Linked DNA regions of Homo sapiens. The protein of the gene in region 1 purifies or fractionates together with the protein of each later gene. This does not show direct contact. Each region holds a gene or a part of one and is shown in the gene's direction. Other genes may lie near its edges. The genes, in order: MTNR1B, CTNND1, RGS20, COPA and GNAI3.

Evidence for each region.
Region 2: the proteins of MTNR1B (region 1) and CTNND1 purify together in Homo sapiens (tandem affinity purification; one large-scale study listed by IntAct). This does not show direct contact.
Region 3: the proteins of MTNR1B (region 1) and RGS20 purify together in Homo sapiens (co-immunoprecipitation; one study listed by IntAct). This does not show direct contact.
Region 4: the proteins of MTNR1B (region 1) and COPA purify together in Homo sapiens (tandem affinity purification; 2 studies listed by IntAct). This does not show direct contact.
Region 5: the proteins of MTNR1B (region 1) and GNAI3 purify together in Homo sapiens (tandem affinity purification; 2 studies listed by IntAct). This does not show direct contact.

What each region holds. Positions count from the first base shown.
Region 1 is NC_000011.10:92,976,151-92,979,670, forward strand, and holds part of MTNR1B (melatonin receptor type 1B), read left to right. Parts: intron 1-1,008; exon of another isoform or gene 1,009-1,540; coding exon of another isoform or gene 1,541-1,637; intron 1,638-3,520.
Region 2 is NC_000011.10:57,792,794-57,796,313, forward strand, and holds part of CTNND1 (catenin delta-1), read left to right. Parts: intron 1-1,216; coding exon 1,217-1,288; intron 1,289-2,783; coding exon 2,784-2,936; intron 2,937-3,520. UniProt on the Homo sapiens protein: Key regulator of cell-cell adhesion that associates with and regulates the cell adhesion properties of both C-, E- and N-cadherins, being critical for their surface stability.
Region 3 is NC_000008.11:53,932,864-53,936,383, forward strand, and holds part of RGS20 (regulator of G-protein signaling 20), read left to right. Parts: intron 1-3,520. UniProt on the Homo sapiens protein: Inhibits signal transduction by increasing the GTPase activity of G protein alpha subunits thereby driving them into their inactive GDP-bound form.
Region 4 is NC_000001.11:160,294,749-160,298,268, reverse strand, and holds part of COPA (coatomer subunit alpha), read left to right. Parts: intron 1-523; coding exon 524-713; intron 714-830; coding exon 831-926; intron 927-2,119; coding exon 2,120-2,208; intron 2,209-2,409; coding exon 2,410-2,533; intron 2,534-3,411; coding exon 3,412-3,501; intron 3,502-3,520. UniProt on the Homo sapiens protein: The coatomer is a cytosolic protein complex that binds to dilysine motifs and reversibly associates with Golgi non-clathrin-coated vesicles, which further mediate biosynthetic protein transport from the ER, via the Golgi up to the trans Golgi network.
Region 5 is NC_000001.11:109,586,599-109,590,118, forward strand, and holds part of GNAI3 (guanine nucleotide-binding protein G(i) subunit alpha-3), read left to right. Parts: intron 1-130; coding exon 131-284; intron 285-3,520. UniProt on the Homo sapiens protein: Heterotrimeric guanine nucleotide-binding proteins (G proteins) function as transducers downstream of G protein-coupled receptors (GPCRs) in numerous signaling cascades.

The sequences.
Region 1 (3,520 bases):
TATCTCCAGAAAGCTGGATTCTGCATTCGGATATGATATACCACAAAATTCAGAGAATACTGAAAGCTCCTACTGGCTCTTTCAATTTAAAATACTTACTGCTGGAGGAGTAGAGATAGAGAATTGGGAAGTAAAGCCCCAGTTCTTAGGGAGTTTGCCATCTAGAAGGAATGTCCTACTTTCTTCATCTTCATGTCCTTACTACTTCTCACATCTTATCTCACAGGGATCCCAGTCCAACCTTATGAGCCTCTTTCTTGATCTGTCAGTACAGCTAATAATATAAAACAGTAATAACAAATAATAGCTAATATTACTAGTGCTTGTTATATGCCAGATTCAAGTCTCTTTCCTTTAAGAGAGAAAGAAAAGGCAAAAAAAGCCCTCCACTGTCCCCTATCAAAGGGATATTCCTTCCTAAGCGCCACTCTCTATCTCCTTCTTTTGAAGGCAACACTGATAGAGCAATCTCCAGGGCAAAACTGGATCCCCAAGCTCTCAACAGAATTTGTTCTTGTTAATGTCACTACTGCCTTCCTAACTACCAAGTCCAATGAGCACTTTTCTGTCCTTTCTCACTTTTGTAGATGACCAAGAAACTCTCTACACCCTTTCTCTTAATTCCCTTGATATTTCTTTTCTTTGGTTTTCTCCTCTTCTTGTTCTTTCTCAATCCTTCTGTGTTATGGCTATGAGCAATTCACACAAACTGGGTGTCTGTTTCTTTATCTATAAAACAGAAATCATGCTGTCAACCTTAAGGAATTCTTGTGAAAAACAATGGAGTCCATTTATGTAAAACTATACTATCAACTTCACCATGTTATATCAATGGTTGTTTTGTTGCTATTAAGTGTAAAGTAATAAAATGTTACCTATCAGAATTTCAAAATGATCTCTTTTGATGGTTATTGAAGAATATTTTGTAAAGCATCTTAGTTATGTTTTTAAATGGATGCTTATGTTCTTAAATATATTTTCTTCTTTTAAGTGGTTGAAATACCCCCATATATATCTGTGTACACTATTGATTAGCCAGTTTTTGTTTTCTAATTAAATCAAAGTTAGATTTCAACTCAGCTCTTGTATGATTCATCCACACATCCTAAGATTTTCATAAATATGTGACTTTGGAAGAAAAAAATATCTGCTCTCAAGAGATTTGGGAATCTAATTACAAGCTTACAATAAATGCATTGTTTTAGTGTTTGTTTGAAAATCAAGTTGTGAATAAATTATATGGTCAATTATTTCAAATGCCCATCCCCAGAACATAATAAGAATATCTCACATTAATTTGGTGATTATTGTTATTTCTCATGACCTTTCCCATACAACATCTTATTTGAGGTAAACAGCCATTCTGGGAGTTAGGAGTTCTGTTGCAAAAGTCTTGGTAATTTTGTGTAGCTCCTTGGTGAATTGTCGTGCCTGACCAACCCCATATCCTGCCATTGTCCCCAGTCCCAAGTTGACTCACAAATTCCCCACTGTTCCCACCACCTTGTTCTGGCCTTTCTTCCAGCTCTCACCTAATTGAATGGCTACTGTTTTCTTTTGTTTCCCTAACAGTTCCATGGGCATCTCAATGGCAGGGGCCATGTCTTTCATCCATCACTGCGTCTTACTTGAATGTGGTAGGCACTCAATAAATATATTACACATTTAAACAGATGGAAGAGTGGAAGAAGACCTCAAGGCACAGAAAGTTTAACACTGTTAGAAAACATAGATCATTTGTTGACTTCCCCAACATATCCCTCTTGGCACCTTGTTTTTATTTGTTTAATGGTCTTCCCTAAGAGACCATAAACTTTATAAGGGGAGGTAGCCTGTCCATCTGGCATAGTCAAAGGCAGAACCTAGTATATACTCAGCAATATTTGTCACATAAATGACTTGATGATTCTCTCTTTCTATCTTGTCTTTTAGCTCAATGACCAAGGAGAATTTATGTCTAACCAAATTTTTCTTCTGAGCATGGAGGGTGAGCACAGAGGAGGGGGGCAAGGGTTACAGGGAGCTTTACCTTCCAGAATTCTCCTATCTGACGAATATTAGATAGCTCAGCACTGGCTGGCTCTTTCCTAGATTACCAGATCTCCATTAAGAAATACATTTTCCAGAAAGAAAGAGAGAGGAAGAGAAGAGGGAGGAGACTGTGATGGTTGTGTGTGTGAAAGGATGCGCTCTGCGTATGAATCCTGAAGGGGATTCCATGTTAGTAAACAAAGCCCTCTTGTCAAAGCCTCTCTCCACTAATACACCCTATCTGCTGGAGGCAGATGGAAACGAGTCACGCCAGGACCCATGACATAAATATTCATTATGCACACGGTGACTGCAGTGCTGTGTGCATACTGAGTGATTTCTCACCTGTCTGGGGAAGAAATGGATGGAGAACTGGATCTCCCCTTGACTATCATCCACATAGGACCTGGCTTCTTACAGATGGAAGACAAAACACAAATTTTATTCATCTAATTTGGAATTGTGCCAAGAAAGCCTGGAGACAGTGGGATGTCTGGGCAGATGAATCTATAGCAGGAAGTGGTTGATTTCAGCCTTTTAGGAACAGCCAGAGTAATAGGGGATAGTAATTGAATCACTTTCCACATGGAGTTGAATGTGTTCTTCTTACTATTTACAAGCTGTTTGCCAGCCTCTGGGGCATTATTAGGGGATAAGCCACATTAACACAGCAGAACTTGACTCTGCCTTCACAGGGAAACAGCTGGCAGAGCTGGCACCGGCTCCCAGCAGCTCTTGACTTTCTCTGCTCAGCTTGCAAGTGCCAAGAGCTTGTGTGTTGCTGGGCCAGGTGCCCAGCGGGTCCTATGGAGACTCATCTTCCTGTGCTGGAGAGAAGTGATTCTCTTCACAGAACCAACCCTATGAGTGTGCAGGGGGAAGTGATGGCAGAGCTCTGAAAGAAAAGAAAGGAGCTCATGTAGGAATAGTCACCAAGAAAGGAACTCGGGAACTCGCCCAAATTCATTCAACCATAAAGTGGCAGGACTCAGATTATCCCAGATTTCTCTGACTTCAGCACAACCCTCCAGATTTCAAAAGGACACATAAAATTCTCAGGAGACAAGGGTTCCTGATTCAGCTGAAGACAAGCAATGTGAGAGAGGGAATCCCTCATGTTCTTGGAACCAAGTGAGGTCTGTGTAGATGAGTCAGAGATGGAGATCCAGCAGTGGAGACAGCCAGCGGGCTGAGAATTAAATTAAAAGGCACAAAACCCCTCCACATCCCAAGCAGGTCCTTGTTGCACATTTTTTGCCTTGCTGTACCAACCAGAAAGGAAATGAGGTCATTTTTAACCCATGAAGTAAATAAATCTGTGAATAGTAGAGTAGGTAGGAATCCAGCAGTTCAGTTGAGTCATGATTCTCCTTTGCCATCCAACTTGCTGGACAATCTTGAGACAGGGAAACTCACTACCTCACAAGCGCTCTAATTGTCCAGACAATCTCCTTTCTATTCAGTTACATCCTGTCTCCCTGGTTTCCTA
Region 2 (3,520 bases), about 35 Mb from region 1:
ACTGGGATTACGCGTGAGCTACTGCACCCGGCTGAGTGATTTTTTTTTTTTTTTTTTTAAGATAGAGAAAGTCCCTCATACTGAGGAGCCTTGCAGTTGAGAGAGAACAGAATTCCAGTTGGAGGATCAAGGAATTTGAGGGAGGCAGCATGCTTGCAGTGTTCCTAGGATTTTTACAGGAACTACAATAGAAAGTTAGGGATGAAATTATATTGAAAGGAGAAAGCTGGACTGCTCAGGTTTGGAGGTCATGGGGAATTCCAGGATTCAGTATGTGGTTGCTCTCTTATTTTTAACTTCTGCTTAGCAGTAAAACCACACCCTTCCTTCTTCCTGAAAGTAATGTTTAACTTCCTCTCCCTGCAGCATTACACTCTATGTAATGGGAGTGGGGTGGAGGAAGAGTCTCCCAAGGTGGTTGGATCTCACTATTCTACTGGAAGAGGAGCAGGCAAATATATTTTTATGTGGTATAATGTCATTAGATTATTTCCTGCTGCTTAAGACAGAGCAACTTCTGGATGACATTTTGGAATGTATTCTGTGGCTCTAATAATTGTTGGTAAAGATATTGAGCCTTCTGTTTTCTTGAGGGGAGTTGGGGTGCTTGTTTTTGTACTTGGAAAGGGAGACTCGTATCTCTTGCTTTTTTCTTTAATTAAATTTCTGTTTTTTACATTAGGACATGATAGCCATCTTGCTTCTTTCTTTAAAAAGCTGCCTGGAATGGGAGTTTCCAGTGGTAGTACTGCATGAAGATTCATGAGACTATAAAGCTCTTTGGAAACCCCCCAACTTAGCCCTTCCAACTTTCCTTACATTTTTATGGCTTTCCAAAAAGGTTGCATGTAAGGGAAATTATCTAGGTCTGTGCTGTTTATTCAGCAAATAGTTTTTGAGCACCTGTTATGTGCCAGGCACTGTTCAAGGCACTAGACTAAACTAAACTTATCCCAAAAAACCCTCTGCCCTCGTGGAGTTTACGTTCTTATGTTCCAGAGACCCTGTCTGCCAGAGTTCCAGGCCTGATTTTCAATTTTGAGGAAAGTGCTAAGACTAAAGAGTGAATGGTTCTTTTATGAGTACTGACACAAGGACTCCAGGCCACACATATCTTCTTGAAAGCCCTTTTCCTGTTTGAAAAAAAGATCGTTTGTATTTGATAGAGCAAAAGAAGGCCACAAAATGAATTGTCTTCTTGTGGGCTGTGTTTCAGAACGGCCGGTTTGTGGGCGATGCTGACCTTGAAAGACAGAAATTTTCAGATTTGAAACTCAACGGACCCCAGGTAATTCTTTGGCTCAAGACCTGGGTTGCTTCATTCATATTTTCTTATTTCCCCAGCCTATAAGAGCATATTTGTGTCTTGTAAGGTGCCTGGCACATTGTACATACTCGTCAATTAGTTTCTTTTATTTACGAAAACAAAGAAGTGGAGCTCCAAAGTATATATGCAGTTTTGTTTTGGAATGAATTTTAATGACCATTGATCTTTATGACTATTCCTCCTCCCCACTGCCACCCCATTTGATCCCTAAGTACTGCGTTTCTTTTCTAGAGACAGTAGGCTTCTACTTTGCAGCAAAAAACCCTACCTAAAATCTGGCTGGTCTTGAGCCTTTTAGACGGTATCTGAAGAGTAACATAAAGCCAGTCAAAAGATGGCTCTTACTGGGATTTTCAGGTTTGTCTTAAAAGTTCTTTATTTTTGGCCAGGCATGGTGGCTCATGCCTGTAATCCCAGCACTTTGGGAGGCTGAGGTGGGCAGATCACCTCAGGTCGGGAGTTGGAGACCAGCCTGACCAACATGGAGAAACCCCGTCTCTACTGAAAATACAAAATTAGTCAGGCGTGGTGGCACATGCCTGTAATCCCAGCTACTCGGGAGGCTGAGGCAGGAGAATTGCTTGAAACCAGGTGGCGGAGATTGTGGTGAGCTGAGATCATGCCATTGTACTCCAGCCTGGGCAACAAGAGCAAAACTCTGTCTCAAAAAAAAAAAAAAAGTTCTTTATTTTAGACTGGGCACGGTGTCTCATGCCTGTAATCCAACACTTTGGGAGGCCAAGGCAGAGCAAAACTCCGTCTCAAAAAAAAAAAAAAAACAAAGTTCTTTATTTTGGCCAGGCGTGGTTTGCTCATTCCTGTAATTCCAGCACTTTGGGAGGCTGAGGCTGGAGGATTGCTTGAGCCCAGGAGTTCAAGACCAGCCTGGGCAACATAGACCCTGTCTCTACAAAAAAAATAAAATTAGCCAGGCATGGTGGCGTGAGCCTGTAGTTCTAGCTACTCAGGAGGCTGAAATGGCAAGATTGCTTGAGCCTGGGAGGTTGGGGCTCCAGTGAGCTATGATCATGCCACTGCACTCTAGCTTGGGTGATAGAGTGAGACCCTATCTCAAGTAAATAAATACAAGTTATTTATTTATTGGGTGAGCTGCTCTTTTGAGGGATCACTCAGATATAGATGAAACTGCATTTAACACAGTTCATGTTCACTTAGATGACCACAGCTGGGAAGTTAAATCTACTGTCTGTCACTTGGATGTTGATGTGGCTATAGTTAGTTCATGTTTGTTAAATGACTACAACTGGGAAATTATGTCTACTGTCCTTTTGTACAAGTTCAAAAGATGACAGCCACCCATCTAAAAATCCTGAGGCCTATAGAAGATGCATGAGGAGTCCCTGTCTCCAGGTTTACCACTTATGCTTCTTATTAGGATGGCTTGTTATACATAGCACTTAATAGTAGTTTCTTCTCTTTTCTCTTTTGCATATAGGATCACAGTCACCTTCTATATAGCACCATCCCCAGGATGCAGGAGCCGGGGCAGATTGTGGAGACCTACACGGAGGAGGATCCTGAGGGAGCCATGTCTGTAGTCTCTGTGGAGACCTCAGATGATGGGACCACTCGGCGCACAGAGACCACGGTAAACTAAGACGTGTGTAAGATCTGGAAGTGATAAGAGGTCTTTTCTTCTCTATTAGGGGAGGGGTTAAGCACTTAATTAAGATGGAGGACTGATATGCCATTATTGATCTGATTGCATGAAGTGATCTCTGGCCAGATAGAAAGGATGAAGAGATGGGAAAATCTTATGGGATAGGGAAGACAGAAGGTATATCAGGGTCTATAGTAGCTTCCCTTATAAGCATAGTTACTGTCAGGGCAATTTTCCTGCTTGGGGACTTCCTATAGGATGGAAAGAAAGATAGATGGTAGGCTTTAAGGCATTCCTAGGTAAAGTGACCTAGGGATATAAAGATTTGTTTCTTTTGGAGTGGTATAGAATTTAATTGTTCATGGCTGGGCGCGGTGGGTCACGCTTGTAATCCCAGCCCTGTGGGAGGCTGAGGTGGGCGGATCACGAGGTCAGGAGTTTGAGACCAGTCTGGGCAACATAGTGAAACCCCGTCTCTACTAAAAATACAAAAAATTAGCCAGGTGTGGTGGTGTGTGCCTGTAATACCAGCTACTCGGGAGGCTGAGGCAGGAGAATTGCGTGAACCTGGG
Region 3 (3,520 bases), on another chromosome or scaffold:
ACAGGAGCGCTCCAACTGGCCTCTGGTGGGTGCCCCTCTGGGATGAAGCTTCCAGAGGAAGGAACAGGCAGCTGTTCTGCAGCCTTTGCTAGTGATACCCTGGCAAACAGGGTCTGGCATGGACCTCCAGCAAACTCCAGCAGACCTGCAGCAGAGGGGCCTGTTAGAAGGAAAGCTAACAAACGAAAGGAATAGCATCAACATCAACAAAAAGGACGTCCACACAGAAACCCCATCCAAAGATCACCAACATCAAAAACCAAAGGTAGATAAATCCATGAAGATGAGGAAAAACCAGTGCAAAAAGGCTGAAAATTGCAAAAACCAGAATGTCTCTTCTACTCCAAAGGATCACAACTCGTTGCCAGCAAGGGAACAAAACTGGACAGAGAATGAGTTTGACGCATTGACAGAAGGAGGCTTCAGAAGGTAGGTAATAAACTCCTCTGAGCTAAAGGAGCATGTTCTAACCCAATGAAAGGAAGCTAAGAACCTTGAAAAAAGATTAGAGGAATTGCTATCTAGAATAACCATTTTAGAGAAGAATATAAATGACCTGATGTAGCTGAAAAACACAGCACAAGAACTTCCTGAAGCATACACAAGTATCAATAGCCGAATTGATCAAGTGGAAGAAAGGATATCAGAGATTGAAGATCAACTTAATGAAATAAAGTGTGAAGACAAGATTAGAGAAAAATGAATGAAAAGGAATGAACAAAGCCTCCAAGAAATATGGGACTATGAGAAAGACCAAATCTACATTTGATTGGTGTACCTGAAAGTGACGGGGAGAATGGAACCAAGTTGGAAAACACTCTTCAGGATATTATCTGGGAGAACTTCCCCAACCTAGCAAGAGAGGCCAACGTTCAAACTCAGGAAATACAGAGAACACCACGAAGATATTCCTCGTAGAGAGCAACCCAAGACTCATAATCATCAGATTCACCAAGGTTGAAATGAAGGAAAAAATGTTAAGGGCAGCCAGAGAGAAAGGTCGGGTTACCCACAAAGGGAAGCCCATCAGACTAACAGCACATCTCTCTGCAGAAACCCTACAAGCCAGAAGAGAGTGGGGTCCAATATTCAACATTCTTAAAGAAAAGAATTTTCAACCCAGAATTTTATATCCAGCCAAACTATGCTTCATAAGCAAAGGAGAAATGAAATCCTTTACAGACAAGCAAATGCTGAGAGATTTTGTCACCACCAGGCCTGCCCTACAAGAGCTCCTGAAGGACGTACTACACACGGAAAGGAAAAACCGGCATCAGCCACTACAAAAATGTACCAAATTGTAAAGACCATCAACACTATGAAGAAACTGCATCAACTAATGGGCAAAATAACCAGCTAGCATCATAATGACAGGATCAAATTCACACATAACAATATTAAGCTTAAATGTAAACAGGCTAAATGCCCCAATTAAAAGATGCAGACTGGCAGATTGGCTAAAGGTCAAGACCCAACAGTGTGCTGTATTTAGGAGACCCATCTCACGTGCAGAGACACACATAGACTCAAAATAAAGGCATGGAGGAATATTTACAAGCAAATGGAAAGCAAAAAGAAGCAAGCGTTGCAATCCTAGTCTCTGATAAAACAGACTTTAAACCAACAATGATCAAAAAAGACAAAGAAGGGCATCATTACATAATGGTAAAGGGATCAACACAACAAGAAGAGATAACTATCCTAAACATATATGCACCCAATAAAGGAGCATCCATATTCATAAAGCAAGTTCTTAGAGACCTACAAAGAGACGTAGACTCCCACACAATAATAGTTGGAGACTTTTACACCCCACTGTCAATATTAGACAGATTAACGAGACAGAAAATTAACAAGGATATTCAGGACTTGAACTCAGCTCTGGACCAAGCAGACCTAATAGACATCTACAGAACTCTCAACCCCATACCAACAGAATATACAGTCTTCTCAGCACCACATCACATTTATTCTAAAATTGACCACATAATTGAAAGTAAAACACTCCTCGGCAAACGCAAAAGAACAGAAATCACAACAAACAGTCTCTCAGGCCACAGTGCAATCAAATTAGAACTCAGGAATAAGAAACTCACTCAAAACCGCACAACTGCATGGAAACTGAACAACCTGCTCTTGAATGACTACTGAGTAAATAATGAAATTAAGGCAAAAATAAATAAGTTTTTTGAAACCAATGAGAACAAAGACACAACCTACCAGTATCTCTGGGACACAGCTAAAGCAGCGTTTAGAGGGAAATTTATAGCACTAAATGCCCAAAGGAGAAAGCAGGAAAAATCTAGAATTGACACCCTAACATCACAATTAAAGAACTAGAGAAGTGAGAGCAAACAAATTCAAAAGCCAGCAGAAGACAACAGATAACTAAGATCAGAGCAGAACTGAAGGAGGACACCAAAAAATCCTTCAAAAAATCAATGAATCAAGGAGCTGGTTTTTGAAAAGATCAACAAAATAGCTAGACCACTAGCCAGACTAATAAAGAAGAAAAGACAGGAGAATCAAATAGACACAATAAAAAATTATAAAGCAGATATCACCACTGATCCCACAGAAATACAAACTACCATCAGAGAATATTATAAACACCTCTACACAAATAAACTAGAAAATCTAGAAGAAACAGATAAATTCCTGGACACATACACCCTCCCAAGACTAAATCAGGAAGAAGTCAAATCCCTGAATAGAACAATAACAAGTTCTAAAATTGAGGCAGTAATTAATAGCCTACCAACCAAAAAAAGGCCCAGGACCAGACAGATTCACAGCCTAATTCTACCAGAGGTACAAAGAGGAGCTGGTACCATTCCAAACAATAGAAACAATAGAAAAAGAGGGACTCCTCCCTAACTCATTTTGAGTCCAGCATTATCCTGATACCAAAACCTGCCAGAGACACAACAAAAAAAGAAAATTTCAGGCCAATATCCCTGATGAACATCAATGCGAACATCCTCAATAAAATACTGGCAAACCGAATCCAGCAGCACATCAAAAAGCTTATCCACCACCATCAAGTCGGCTTCATCCCTGGGATGCAAGGCTGGTTCAACATATGCAAATCAATAAACATAATCCATCACATAAACAGAACCAATGACGAAAACCACATGATTATCTCAATAGATGCAGAAAAGGCCTTCAATAAAATTCAACACCCTTTCATGCTAAAAACTCTCAATAAACTAGGTATTGATGGAATGTATCTCAAAATAACAAGACCTATTTATGACACACCCACAACCAATATCATGTTGAATGGACAAAAGCTGGAAGCATTCCCTTTGAAAACTGGCACAAGACAAGAATGCCGTCTCTTACCACTCCTATTCAACATAGTATTGGAAGTTCTGGCCAGGGCAATCAGGCAAGAGAAAGAAATAAATGGTATCCAAATAGGAAGAGAGAGAGTCAAATTATCTCTGTTTGCAGATGACATGATTGTATATTTAGAAAACCTCATCATCTCAGCCCAAAATCTCCTTAAGCTGAT
Region 4 (3,520 bases), on another chromosome or scaffold:
GATAATGCGATGTAATTATTTCCATCTCTGTATCCAAAGGGGTCCTATGTGTTCACTGGATTTTCTTTTTTTTTTTTTCTTTTTTTTGAGGCGGAGTCTCGCTCTTGTTGCCCAGGCTGGAGTGCAATGGCATGATCTCGGCTCACTGCAACCTCCGCCTCCTGGGTCCAAGCGATTCTCCTGCCTCAGCTTCCCGAGTAGGTGGGACTACAGGCGTGCACCATGATTCCCAGCTAATTTTTTTTGTATTTTTAGTAGAGACAGGGTTTCACCATGTTGGCCAGGATGGTCTCGAGCTCTTGACCTCGGGATCCGCCTGCCTTGGCCTCCCAAAGTGCTGGGATTACAGATGTGAGCCACCGCACCCAGCCGATTTTCAATGGAATTAGACTAAAAGCTAGGAGTAATTGAAAGTATAGGAAGTTCTTCAGGAAATCTATATAGATGCAGATGCTTTGCAGAGTCCTTGGTTTTGAGTCACATTGTCCTTCAACCTGTTAACACGACCCTGGGGATTCTTTAGATTGCTCTGGAAGCAGCCAAAGCACTGGATGACAAGAACTGCTGGGAAAAGCTGGGAGAAGTGGCCCTGCTGCAGGGGAACCACCAGATTGTGGAAATGTGCTATCAGCGTACCAAAAACTTTGACAAACTTTCCTTCCTGTATCTTATCACTGGCAACTTAGAAAAACTTCGCAAGATGATGAAGATTGGTGAGGCCCTCAAACTAAGGATGGGAAGAGGGGTTCTTGGGGGAAGGAGGAAGGTGAATTAAGGAGAAAGAGAACTTAAGAGAAAAGACCTAACTTGGTGTCTCTTACTTGGTGCAGCTGAGATCAGAAAGGACATGAGTGGCCACTATCAGAATGCCCTATACCTGGGTGATGTGTCAGAGCGTGTGCGGATCCTGAAGAACTGTGGACAGAGTAAGTATCCGAGACTTGCCAGCTTTTTCAGGGTCTGAGGAAGTATTTTTCTGTTTTTGTTGAGTTAATCTGTGTATAGTGGTGAGGGATTTCTCTTTATTGTGCATTTTTTTAGGAGAGACAACATGCTCCTACTGTGCTTAGAAGATTTTCTTCAAAGCCAAAGGGAGGTGCAGCCAGAATATTCAGTCCAGCCAAACACCCTTAGGAGAATAGTTATTCATGGGGGAGATAGGAGGTTTTAAAAGGTCTTGAGTGGACGCCCTAGTAAATGCACTTGGTTGGATGCCATTAGAATTTTATTCTTTATTTTCAGTTTGGAGGTTTCACTCATTTATTCATGTATATAGTCAAGGGATATTTTTTGAGAACCCACTATATACCAAGCATTATATTAGCATTTAAGATACATTAGGAAACAAGCAAGGTGAAAGATGAGGTTTGGACCAAGGCGCTATTAGTGGAGGGGTGAGCAGTGGTCAGATTCAGGATATATTTTAAGGTAGAAACAACATGATTTATTGCGGTAACTAGATTTGAGATGTAACAGAGAGGAGTCAGGGATATCCAAGGTTCTCAGCACGGATGGATACGTCTCAAAGATAAGCAGCTATATTAGTTCTCTATTTCTGTGTAACAAATTATCCCCAAATTTAGTAGTTTAAAACCACAAACATTTATTATTTCACAATTTGTGGCATGGCTTAGCTAGGTGCCTCCGGCTTAGGATCTCTCATGAGGCTACAGTCAAAGTGTTGGCCAGAACTGCAGATATCTGAAGACTCACCGGGGAGAGAATCTACTTCTGCACTCACTCAATGGCCATTGGCAGCCCCCATGTCCTTGCTCCCTGTTGTCTAAGAAACATCACTTTCTTTTCGTGTTGACCTCTCCATAGGAGTTTGTAACGTGGTAGCTAGTTTCCCTTACAGCAAGTGAGCAAAAGAGGGCACCCCAAGATAGAAGCCACAATCTTTGTAACCAGATCTAGGAAGTAACATCCCATCACATCTGCCATGTTCCATCCATTAGAAGCTATTTAATAAATCCAGCCCACACTTAAGAGGTGGGTATTTTGCAACAACTTGAATACCAGGAGTCAGGGATTACTGGGGGGCCATTTCAGAGGTTGCTTACCACAGCAGCATGCATTTGGAAATGTACCTATACCACAAAGTCTGTTTTCTCTACAGAGTCCCTGGCCTATCTCACAGCTGCTACCCATGGCTTAGATGAAGAAGCTGAGAGCCTAAAGGAGACATTTGACCCAGAGAAGGAGACAGTGAGTCTTTATTTACATAATTGTCTCTTATTACAGGATTAACTCTAGGATCTTAGAACAATTTAAAATTATGAATGTCACTCTCCCACCTGGTTACCAGGAGAGGCAGAGAAACAAATGAGATCAAAGGAGGCTCCATAACTTTCCTTACGTGACTTCCAAGTGCTATTTGTTTTTAGCCTCTTTTCTTCTACTATTCAGATCCCAGACATTGACCCTAATGCCAAGCTGCTCCAGCCACCTGCACCTATCATGCCATTGGATACCAATTGGCCTTTATTGACTGTATCCAAAGGATTTTTTGAAGGCACCATTGCCAGCAAAGGTAAGTACCTATTTCTCCCATAGCACTTTTGTTGTTTGTTTTGTGAAGAACTGTCCTAGAGAATACCATTAGCATTTAGTTTAACTTGTCCTTTTTTTCTGCATGGAGCCTAATGGAATATTGAAATGCCAGTCATTTATGGTGCAGTCTTAAAAACTTAAGATAGCATTTTCAGGTCATTAAAGAAAATTTGGAAAATAGGGAGAAAAAAAGGGATCCCTCTACTACCATCAATAACTTCGGTTAATATTTTGGTGTATTTTCTTAGGTTTTACTATATATGTAGTCATGTTCTTTGTTCAGTATTTTATCATTCATGACATACAATCTTAAAGGTACTAATTCAACTACCTGTAATTCCGGTATGTGGGTATAGGCAGATGTGTGCTATCACCCTCCACCACTTCCACCCTTAACCTCCTCCTGTTTTCTGGGTCTCCTAGTTCATTTCCCGTGAGTAAGAGCCTAAACAGACTCTTGAGCATTTTGTGCCAAACCCCACTCTTTTCTCCACCTCCTCTATCTACCCTATGCCTGATGCCCTGTACACATTGTAGTGGTGGTAGCTTAGCAAAGCGCTCAGGAAGAAATTCAAGAGTTGGTAGCCAAAGGCTGGTAAGTACAAATTATTTAAGAGCCAGTTTTTGGTAGCAGGAAGGCCAGTTCCTTCCATCTGTCTTCTATTCCCTCCCTCTGTGAAAGCTACTGCAAGTTAGCATAACATATATACCACAAAAATAAATAATACACAAAAATAAATAGTAAGTAGGCAGAAGCTTGGCACCTGTTTTTGAAAGGATTTAACCTGCCTACAGAAAAGGCCGTATCTCAGACTTGCTGGACTATAACCAGTTCCGTTCTGTTCCTTCCCTCTGTAGGGAAGGGAGGAGCACTGGCTGCTGACATTGACATTGACACTGTTGGTACAGAGGGCTGGGGAGAGGATGCAGAGCTGCAGTTGGATGAAGGTAAAAGTGCTGTTTTAAG
Region 5 (3,520 bases), on another chromosome or scaffold:
TCTTATTGGTGTTTGACTTATTTCCGTGAATGCCATTTAGTGCTGCAAAACTTGTTGGTTTGTCTTTTTCATTAACTTAATCCACTTTTACTATTTGCTACTGACCTATCATCCTTTATTTCTTTTTCAGAACCGAATGCATGAAAGCATGAAACTGTTTGACAGCATTTGTAATAACAAATGGTTTACAGAAACTTCAATCATTCTCTTCCTTAACAAGAAAGACCTTTTTGAGGAAAAAATAAAGAGGAGTCCGTTAACTATCTGTTATCCAGAATACACAGGTAAGGGGTTATGAAAGATTTTATTGGAGGTACACATCTTACTTAGATCAACACTTTGGTGGCATTCATAAAACTGCCTTTTTTTTTTTAATGATTGATTGGGAGAGTATTCAGTGGTAGTGGCATTGGCATTAAGCCTGTGATTAAAAGCCCCTAAGTCAAGAGTGCCATATCAGACACAATTGAGTTTTCTGTGTTTATTTTAAATTTCTATCTTCATTTTTTGAGGAAAATACAAAAGGAGAAAAAGTAAATTTGGGAGCTGGGCATGGTGGCTATAATTCTAGCTACTTGGAAGCTTGAGGCAGGAGGATCATTTGAGCCCAAGAGTTTGAGATCAGTCTAGGCAACATAGTGACACCCCCCTGCCTCACAAAAAATAAAGTAAAATTTGGTATATGTTGAAGAAAATACAAGGGTAAATTTTAATCATTGTGCCCAAGAGACTGACATGTAGTTGCAGAGAGACATAAATAATTTTATTATAGTGTTTAATTGCACATAAATAATTTTATTATAGTGTAAAATATGCATTAATAGAAGTGGAATAGAAGTGGTTACTTCTGATGGGGTCACTGTAGTCTTTTTCTAGAGCTACTAAGAGGATGAAATAGAAATCATCAGGCAGACGGGAATAAAAGCATTTTAGAAAAGAGGAATTGCATATATGAGAATATGGAGGTAGGAAAATGGTATGACCAGTTGTGGAACCCAGAAGGAATTTGGTATTACTAGAGTTTACAGTGGCAGGGAAGAAGTGGTTGGAGAGATGGTCAGAGATCAACTCATGGAGGGCCTTATATCTCATGCTGAGACGATGATCAGTTAAAGGTTTAATATCCTACCATGATCCATATCATGGGGTGCATGATATAGAAGAAACTGTGCTTGAGAAAGATTATGCAATAAATAATAAAGATAGATAGTAGGGGATTTGAATTAGTAAGAACTCAGGATGGAAATAAAAACTTTTGATGGGGATTAAGGGATATATCATAGAACCCAAGGGCAAGAATGGACAGGTCTTAGAATGGAATTAGAACTAGGAAATAATTGTCAGGAACCCTGGAAGCACTCTTTATCCCCATCTTTTTTCTCTCCTCTCTGTGTATCTTTTTTATTATTCTTTCTTTCCTAACCAGCTTTCTCTGCTATTCAGTTTATGTGATAACAGCCTAGTCACAGTTTCTGTATCTCTGGTAAAAAGATCAGACTAGGCTGGGCGCGGTGGCTCACGCCTGTAATCCCAGCACTTTGGGAGGCCGAGGCGGGTGAATCATGAGGTTAGGAGATCGAGACCATCCTGGCTAACACAGTGAAACCCCGTCTCCACTAAAAATACAAAAAAAATTAGTTGGGCTTGGTGGCAGGCACCTGTAGTCCCAGCTACTCGGGAGGCTGAGGCAGGAGAATGGCATGAACCCGGGAGGCAGAGCTTGCAGTGAGCCGAGATCGCGCCACTGCACTCCAGCCTGGGCGACTGAGCAAAAAAAAAAAAAAGATCAGACTAGACTGGGATTGCTTGGCCTTGGTTTCAAATTCCAAGGAGAGAGATTCTGGCCGTGGTTAAGTCAGGCAGAAATCTGTAGGCCAATCAGTTGAGGTCAGGGGCACAAATGTAACTGCCAGGGATGGATCACTATGAAACTTATAGATCAGAATCAGGTATTTCCAGAGAAGGGGAACTCTTATTAGCAGAGACACTGTAAATGCTTTCTATAATAAAGTGAGGCTGGGTGCAGTGGCTCATGCCTGTAATCCCAGCACTTTGGGAGGCCGTGGCAGGTGGATCATGAGGTCAAGAGATCGAGACCATCCTGACCAATGTGGTGAAACCCTGTCTCTACTAAAAATAGAAAAATTAGCTGGGCATGGTGGTGTGCGCCTGTAATCCCAGCTACTCGGGAGGCTGAGGCAGGAGAATCGCTTGAACCCGGGAGGCGGAGGTTGCGGTGAGCCGAGATCGCACCACTGCACTCCAGCCTGGTGACAGAGTGAGACTCCATCAATCAATCAATCAATCAATCAATCAATAAAGTGAAGGGGTAAAGCAGGGGTAAGGAAGTGGGAAGAGTCAGAGGTACTCCCAGGTTTCTGTCTTGGATGCTGGTGCTGTGACCTGAATTCATGTATAGGAATGTTGATTTTTAATTATTCATAGAACGTTGAAATAATATCTCATGGACAGTTATATTCGAGGTTGAGGAGAGGTTGGGGTTTGAGATCATCAGTAGTGAAAACATGGAAATGGGTGAAATGACCTATGGAGATAATATTATAGAATGAGGAGAAAAAGGACCACAGGTAGAACGAGAGAGAATAGCAGCCTCTATTGGCAGGAGAGGAAGAAAGATATCATAACCAAAAGGAGAGGTTAAAAAGTGAGTTGATTAAATATTTCAGTCAACAGTGTTATCTGCAGATAAGTAAGATACATACTGAAAAAGAGCCTTTGGAGTTAACAGTTAGGAGGTCGTTGACCTGCTGTTGAGAGCAGTGTCAGTGGAAAGTTGAGTACAGTGAGTTACAGAATGGAAAGTGAAGAAAGAAGACAAGTGTAGACTACTCTTGAGCAACGTGGGTTTAAAGGGAAGGGAGAGATTTAAGAATGTTTATAGGCTGAGGGCTAAGATCCTATAAGCAAAAGAGATACATTAAAAAACAGATGTAATTGAAGGAGCAAGATTTGCAAGCAGGTGGGAAAAAAGGAATTAAGAGTCTAGGTAGGATAAATGGATAAACAAATTGTGTTATATACATACAATGAATATTACTTACCCAAGAAAAGGAATAATAATAGATGGTACAACTTGTATGAAACTCAAAACACTGTGCTAAGTAAAAGAGGCCAATACTTCTATTATATGATATATCCAAAATAGGGCAATTTCTGTCCATAGAGACAGAAAGAATATTAGTGGTTATGAGAAGTGGGAGAATGGGAAGAAAAGGGAGTGATTACTTAATGGGAATAGGGTGTTGAAAAAGTTTTGTCACTAGAGAGAGGTGGTGATTGCATAACATTGTGAATACACTAAGTGCCACAGAATTGTACACTTTAAAATGGTTAAATATCTGTTATGTTAATTTTCCTCAATAATTTTTTTAAAAGAGTATAGGTAGAGCAATTGATTTTTGAGCAAGAAGTAAGACACCTCTAAGACCAGAAGTACAAATAAGTGCAGATATGTAACATTTTGAGTGAGGTGGTAGGCCAAAAAGTTGAGATGTAGTTT